2 linked regions of the Homo sapiens genome follow. The protein of the gene in region 1 purifies or fractionates together with the protein of each later gene. This does not show direct contact. Each region holds a gene or a part of one and is shown in the gene's direction. Other genes may lie near its edges.

The links.
Region 2: the proteins of GBP5 (region 1) and ACSM1 purify together in Homo sapiens (affinity purification with mass spectrometry; 2 studies listed by BioGRID and IntAct, with this or other methods). This does not show direct contact.

Annotation. Positions count from the first base shown.
Region 1 is NC_000001.11:89,259,148-89,262,971, reverse strand, and holds part of GBP5 (guanylate-binding protein 5), read left to right. Parts: intron 1-186; coding exon 187-289; intron 290-570; coding exon 571-752; intron 753-2,154; coding exon 2,155-2,268; 3' UTR 2,269-3,824.
Region 2 is NC_000016.10:20,624,653-20,628,476, reverse strand, and holds part of ACSM1 (acyl-coenzyme A synthetase ACSM1, mitochondrial), read left to right. Parts: intron 1-1,160; coding exon 1,161-1,288; intron 1,289-1,386; coding exon of another isoform or gene 1,387-1,401; exon of another isoform or gene 1,402-1,754; intron 1,755-2,954; coding exon 2,955-3,054; intron 3,055-3,824. UniProt on the Homo sapiens protein: Catalyzes the activation of fatty acids by CoA to produce an acyl-CoA, the first step in fatty acid metabolism.

The DNA of each region.
Region 1 (3,824 bases):
TCAATTGGCAGTTCCACCAAGTGCAGGGTGGAAGCCTGTATAGGCTCCACCTCTCCTATGGAGCCTCTCCTATGGCAAGCCTCTCCTATGAGGAATAGATGCTGCTGGAAGGAACAAGACAAAGATGTTTACAACATTCCTAATCACCATTTCCTGCATCTAACTGCATGTTTTCCGGGTTGCTAGGCTGAAGAAGTTCTGCAGAAATATTTAAAGTCCAAGGAGTCTGTGAGTCATGCAATATTACAGACTGACCAGGCTCTCACAGAGACGGAAAAAAAGAAGAAAGGTGAGAAGAAAGTGGAAATTATGCAAGATAGAAAGAAATCTATAAATTTTAAATAAATTTGGCCTGGCCCTCATGGGATGTTAAACTAGAGCAAGAATGGCAAAGATGCTTCTTAGCTCCTCAAGCATATCTGACTGGCATGATCCTGCATTGTGGTTACCTGGAAGGGAAAAACAACCCCTGGGAATTTTATCCAGGAAGTTGGAACAATCACAAACAAAAGTGGGAGGCAGAAGGAAGAGGCACATTAATCCTAGAGAAGATTATCTTTTTCTCCTCAGAGGCACAAGTGAAAGCAGAAGCTGAAAAGGCTGAAGCGCAAAGGTTGGCGGCGATTCAAAGGCAGAACGAGCAAATGATGCAGGAGAGGGAGAGACTCCATCAGGAACAAGTGAGACAAATGGAGATAGCCAAACAAAATTGGCTGGCAGAGCAACAGAAAATGCAGGAACAACAGATGCAGGTATTCATCAATTGTTTCATCTCTCCCCTGCCTGTAACGATGAGAGTATGTAGCAGTGGCAAAGAGGGAGAGGCAGCAAGATCTTGTGGCTCTCAGCAGGGAGTCTGGAGCCAGAAAGTCTGGGTATGAATCCAAGCTCCACCTCTTAGTAAGTATATGGTTTAGGCAAGTTATCTATCACCTCTGTGCCTAATTTTCCTCTTGTGTAAAATGGACACAGTGATGATATCTATGTTATAGGGTTATTTTGATAATTAAATGAGTTAATATTTGTGTTTAAATGGTGCCCGATACAGAGTAAGCACTATATGTTGTTAAATAAAAACCAAGGCATTTCTGGGCTGCAGTAACTGGTCTTTCCTGTTGACTTGTTAATTGTCCTGGATGATCTTTTGCTTTGGTCATAGATACTTTGTTAATCTGATTTCATGTTACTGTGTCTATGCCCCTGTTCTTGCCTTGATCATCTCTGTTCTGAAGGCCTTTAATTTGCCAGTTTGTTTCATCCGGTCCTTTACTTTTATTTACCAATCACTGTCAGTAGTTACCAAGCACTCTCCAGTAGTTATTATTTATCAGTCACTGTCATAGCACTTTACATGCATTATCTCATCTAATCCATTCACTGTAAAGCAGAACTACTGTGTCCTCATTTTTCAGATGAGATAAGTGGGGTTTCAAAGAGATAATCAATGCAAATATCACACAAGCCTAGCACATTAACAAAACTGCCTTCCAAATGAGTGGAATCTGCAGTGTTTTTGCTTCTTCAGACCTGGTGTAAAATTCCTATGTCAGCACCCTAATGAGACAAATGACATCCTAATTCTTCCCCTTGGCTTGCCAGTTTGTAGGTACTAGTTTTTCAGAAGTTACTCTAAAATATTTCTGATTGCAGCTCCTTCCTAAAGAGCAGTATGAGCAGCATGTGGTTATTTATGTATTCACTCTTTTCTCCTACTTCTGTGGTGACCTGGAACAAATTCTCTTATGTATGTAAAGATTGGACAGCCCACCTGATTCCGATGTCACTTAGATACACTGTTTTTGTATCAGCCTCTTCTCTTAGAAATATATCTGAGAGTCTCCTGTGTGTGTATGAGAATTGAAGTCAAGATGTGACTAAGATTGCCCAAGGAGATCGTGTGGTTTAAGGGGGAAGGGAGCTTTGGTTTGGAATCCTAGGGACACCAATATTCCAGGGATGAGAAATGACCATTTCTGGAGCTAGAGAAAGACAAGGAGGGTGAATAATTACAGAAATAGGTTAGATGCACGTGAATGGAAGAGAGATATTCAGGAACTGTTTACTGCTACTGTAGATGAAAAGAAGTAAGGACAAGTGAGTGATTTAGGCAATCAGTAAGAAGCTTGATCTTACTTTCTATTTATCACTCTTTAGGAACAGGCTGCACAGCTCAGCACAACATTCCAAGCTCAAAATAGAAGCCTTCTCAGTGAGCTCCAGCACGCCCAGAGGACTGTTAATAACGATGATCCATGTGTTTTACTCTAAAGTGCTAAATATGGGAGTTTCCTTTTTTTACTCTTTGTCACTGATGACACAACAGAAAAGAAACTGTAGACCTTGGGACAATCAACATTTAAATAAACTTTATAATTATTTTTTCAAACTTTCATATAGAGTTATAAGATTATGATGCTGGTATCTGGTAAAATGTACATCCCAGTAGTCCAATAGTTTAAATGTTTATTGCTTCCTTTAAGAGATTATAAATTGTATAAGGGACATTGTATCACTGCCTTCATTTATGCGTGATATTGGGATGGTTTCATCAGGAGATGCTTTCCTTGCATCTCAATGTCATCTGTCTAATTTCTCATAAGGGGATTATGTTACCTAGAGCAGGGCTTCCCAACCCTCAGGCCATAGACTAGCTCTGATCTGTGGCCTCTTAGGAACCCGGCCACACAGCAGGAGGTGAGCAGCAGGTAAGTGAGCATTACAGCCTGAGCTCCACCTCCTGTCAGATCAGCAGTGACATTAGATTCTCACAGGAGTGGGAACCCTATTGTGAACTGTGCATGCAAAAGATCTAGGTTGTGTGATCCTTGTGGAACAATATAAACCAGAAACCAATAACGCCACCCCACCTCCAACCCCCGCCAACCCTCTGTGGAAAAATTACCTTCCACGAAACTGGTCCCTGATGCCAAATAGGTTGGGGGACCGCTGACCTAGAGGGAGTTATGCACATGGGCTTATAAGGTTAGCCAAGAGAAAGGACAAGAAGACCCAAAGTCGGCAAGCAAATTTATTAACCTGCTGGGCTGCTCTACAGAAATCTGAGGAGGCAGACACCGGGCTTACAGGCTAAGGGGTATAAGTAGGTCTGCAGGGGTTTTGTGTGTGTGTGCGGGGGTGTCGGGGGGGCAAGGCCATTTGTGGAGACTTTTCCTCCCAGTATGGCCACATCCTGCAGTTTGTCAGTTTTTGCCCCCGCCTGGCTCAGGGTACCAGGATGTGGTTTAGCTTAGGGGTGGTTATAGTGGCACCTAAGTTCTGGGAACTTGCGGTGGGGGCGACCTTTTGGACGAAAAATAAGCTGCAGGGCAGCTAGGGGAGGGGGCTTGTTATATTCCTCTGGGGGCAGGGTGTCCCTAACTGGGCTCAGTCGGAAGGAACTTGACCAAAGTCTGGGCTCAGTTGGGCATCACTCAGGCTAATGGTCGTGTGCTGGATGCCATCAGAGGGAAGTACCAATGGTAAAGTGGAAACAATGTGCAGCTTTCAACTGGGTGGAGGCTGCTATTCTGTGGACAGTGAGATGTTTCCTTGGCACTGTCAATAGACAATCTGCGTAGAGAAATTCCAAGCTGAAAGCCAATAATGTTATAATAAAATAGAGATTCTTCAGAAGATGAAAGGAATTACCAGCATGGAAATTGTGTCATAGGCTTAAGGGCTAAAGAAGAAGCCTTTTCTTTTCTGTTCACCCTCACCAAGAGCACAACTTAAATAGGGCATTTTATAACCTGAACACAATTTATATTGGACTTAATTATTATGTGTAATATGTTTATAATCCTTTAGATCTTATAAATATGTGG
Region 2 (3,824 bases), on another chromosome or scaffold:
GAACAAATTAGTTGTTAGCAAGGGGTCAGGGAAGGTGAGAGGAGAGGAAGAGGAAATGAGAGGGAGGTGGGTGTGGTTATAAAAGAGCACCATCAGAGATCTTCCTGATGAGGTGGGGAATGCACAAACCTACATATGTGATAAAACTGCATACAACTAAATACACAGACACACAAGTGAAATGGGACATCTGAAGACTGGTGGATTGTATCAAGGTCAGTATTCTGCCTAAGATACTGATCATATGGTTTTGCAAGATGGTACCACTGTGGAAAACTAGTGAAGAGTACAGGGCATCGATCCACATTATTTTTTATAACTACATGCCATCCACATTTGTCTTAAAATGAAAAGTTAACTTAAAAACATACTAGACTCATAGGCTTTCTGTGAGGATGAAATGAGATAGTATTTAGGGAAGAAAATTCCCTCAGCAAATGTTTATTGACCCCTCTCATCTGTCCAGGCTCTATGTGAATGCTGAGCTTATAGCAGTAAGCAAGGTTCACACCATAATGGAAATTTCATTCTAGTGTAGTGTCACACAAAATGAATATATATATATATATATATATATATATATATATATATATATATATATATATATGTATACATACAGAGAGAGAGAGAGAGAGAGAGAGAGAGAGAGAGATGAAGTCTCACTCTGTTGCCCAAGCTGGATTGCAGTGGCGCGATCTTGGCTCACTGCAACCTCCACCTCCCAGGTTCAAGCGATTCTCCTGCCTCAGCCTCCCCAGTAGCTGGGATTACAGGCATGCACCACCATGCCCAGCTAATTTTTGTATTTTTAGTAGAGATGGGGTTTCACTATGTTGGGCAGGCTGGCCTTGAACTCCTGACCTCATGATCCACCCACCTCAGCCTCCCAAAGTGTTGGGATTACAGGCGTGAGCCACCGCACGTGGCAGAATTGATATTTTTAAACATTGTCATTGAAATTGGTTTAATCACAACCACTCATAGAGCAGTCGCATGCATCATGCGCTACATGTAATGAAAATAGACTCAGAAATGGCAAAACTTGCCCAGGTACCGAGTAGAAACAGAGGCAGAATTCAAACCCAGATTGGAACCCAAGGTTGTGGCTCATCACCTCTAAATTCACTGCCTTCAACAAAGGAGCTCTCTTCTTTTTGCAGGGTGACCCAGAGAAGACAGCTAAAGTGGAATGTGGGGACTTCTACAACACTGGGGACAGAGGTAAGATGGATGAAGAGGGCTACATTTGTTTCCTGGGGAGGAGTGATGACATCATTAATGCCTCTGGGTAGGTGTGGCTGATGCTGGGCTGGCTGTTGTTGCCGTCACATGCCTCACGGAATTTTGCTTACCTAGACATTTTTTCACGCATTGGTGAAATTTCAGCCTAAATCTGAATAGAGCCGTGTCTATGGTGCCCTGATTCCAGGCTTCAGTATACCTCCCGAACCTTCTCTGCACGCAGAAGAATCAAGCAAAATGAAATTCAAGAGGGTCTGGAAGAGGAGCCATAATAAGACACTGTGCAATTTACAGTGGGGTGGGGGGAGTGGAATTGAGAAGGGAGACTCTGTCTTGGTCTCCATAGGTTCAGGGAGCCTATTTCATGTTTGTGCCCCTCTAATGCAGCACCAAATGTCACAGGACAAACATAGTAATAATAATAGCTAACCTTTAGCTATTGTTTATTTTTATTATTATGAATATATTTGTTATACATCTATGAGCATAATAAATCTATTATTATAAAATTATTTATTAGTATAAATATATTATTTACTGTAACTATTTAGCTAACCTGGAGTACTTACTATGTGAAAACACTGTCCTTAATGCTTTATATAACCCACCTCTCAAAGCTGGATGGGAGATGTGATTATTATCCCTATTTTACTAACGAGGAAAGTGGGTCACTGACCGGCAAGGAAATTTGCCTAAAGATTCAAAGATAGCACAGGATGCAATCCAGATTTGAACTGAGGTAGTCTGGCTCTGAGTCCCTGTCCCTACCCCTACATGATTTTTAAAAAGGCGCATTACACTACAGTAACAATTTCCCTTGGATATTTTAGAGAAATTGATGGCATTTTTATTTTTTTATTTTATTTTTTATTTTATTTTATTTTATTTTATTTTTCTGAGACAGAGTCTCCCACTGTCACCCAGGCTGGAGTGCAGTGGCCTGATCTTGGTTCACTGCAAGCTCTGCTTCCTGGCTTCAAGTGAGCATGTCCAGCTAATTTTTATACTTTTAGTAGAGATGGGGTTTCACCATCTTGGCCAGCCTGGTCTTGAACTCCTGACCTCCATTGATCCCCCTGTTTCAGCCTCCCACAGTGCTAAAATTACAGGTGTGAGCCACCATGCCCAGCCTGGATGGGATTTTATTTTAAATTTCTAAAACATGATGTACTGGAAATTTGCACAAAGAGTAGATTTTATGTTCTTACCACAAAAGAAAAAAAAGGCAATTATGTGAGACGATGGATATGCTAGTGTGCTTGAGTGTTTTAATCGCGTTACTATGTATATGTACATCAAAACATCATGTTGTAAGCCTTAAGTATATATAATAAAAGCCGAAAATCCTGCTGATACAATGGGAAATAGTATGCAGAATTTGCATGAATGTTTAAGACCAAGTTTGAGGCTTCCAAGAGATTTCGTGTTGGGGGAAGCTGCTTGGGCCAAGCTCTGAGGAGACAAAACATTAGCCGTCCTCCATCAGTACAGGCAGTGAGGCAAGAAGCCGGGAGCACCGCAGTCTTGTATTTCTCAGCCTATAATGTCCAGGTCTTTACACTTTGGGCCCATGACACAGACAAGTCAGGGGTCCCTGGCTTCCTATGACCTCCACCCTCTGTGCCAAAGGAAGCTGTGACTCCAAAGCAGGAGATCTGGGGACTTGGTTCACCCCAGCCCTGGCATCTGCCTCAGAACCCTTCATCCTCCAGGTATCGCATCGGGCCTGCAGAGGTTGAAAGCGCTTTGGTGGAGCACCCAGCGGTGGCGGAGTCAGCCGTGGTGGGCAGCCCAGACCCGATTCGAGGGGAGGTGAGGAGAACACAGAGATCATCATGTCTGTGCGTGGGCACTAGGAAAGCAGGTGCAGGGGAAACATCCAGGCTTTACCTGTGCAGCCTTGGTGGAAGGGCATAGTGTGCATGTGCGTTTACACGGTATGGCACCAGGGGACAGTGTGGACTCTCTGTGGCTCTGAATAAAAGGATGCTAGATACTATGTAATGAGCACTTATATATGCCAAATCACTTAACTCTCACACAATGTAGTAATCTAAGAACACTTATGCTTTTTATAGATGAGGAAAGAGAAGCAGGAGGAGGTTAAGTAACCTCTCCACATCACCCAGCTAGAGTAAGGGGTGGAGGCAGAATGGCATCTCAGCAATGTGGCTCCCGAACATACATGCATTTGTATATTGAAAAGTGTTATTAGGCCGGGCACGGTGGCTCATGCCTGTAATTCCAATGTTTTGGGAGGCTGAGGTGGACCGATCACCTGAGGTCAGGAGTTCAAGACCAGGCTGGCCAACATGGTGAAACCCCACCTCTACTAAAAATACAAAAAAAATTAGCCAGGTGTGGTGGGGGCAGGTGGGTGGAATGGGGGGTGGGCGCCTGTAGTCCCAGCTACTTGAGAGGCTGAGGCAGGAGAATCGCTTGAACCTGGGAGGCTGAGGTTGCAGTGAGCCAAGATCACACCACTGCACGCCAGTCTGGGCGACAAGAATGAAACTCCATCTGAAAAAAAAAAGTCTTTATTAATCACCTTCTATATGTGAGACCTTGTGCAATAAAACTTG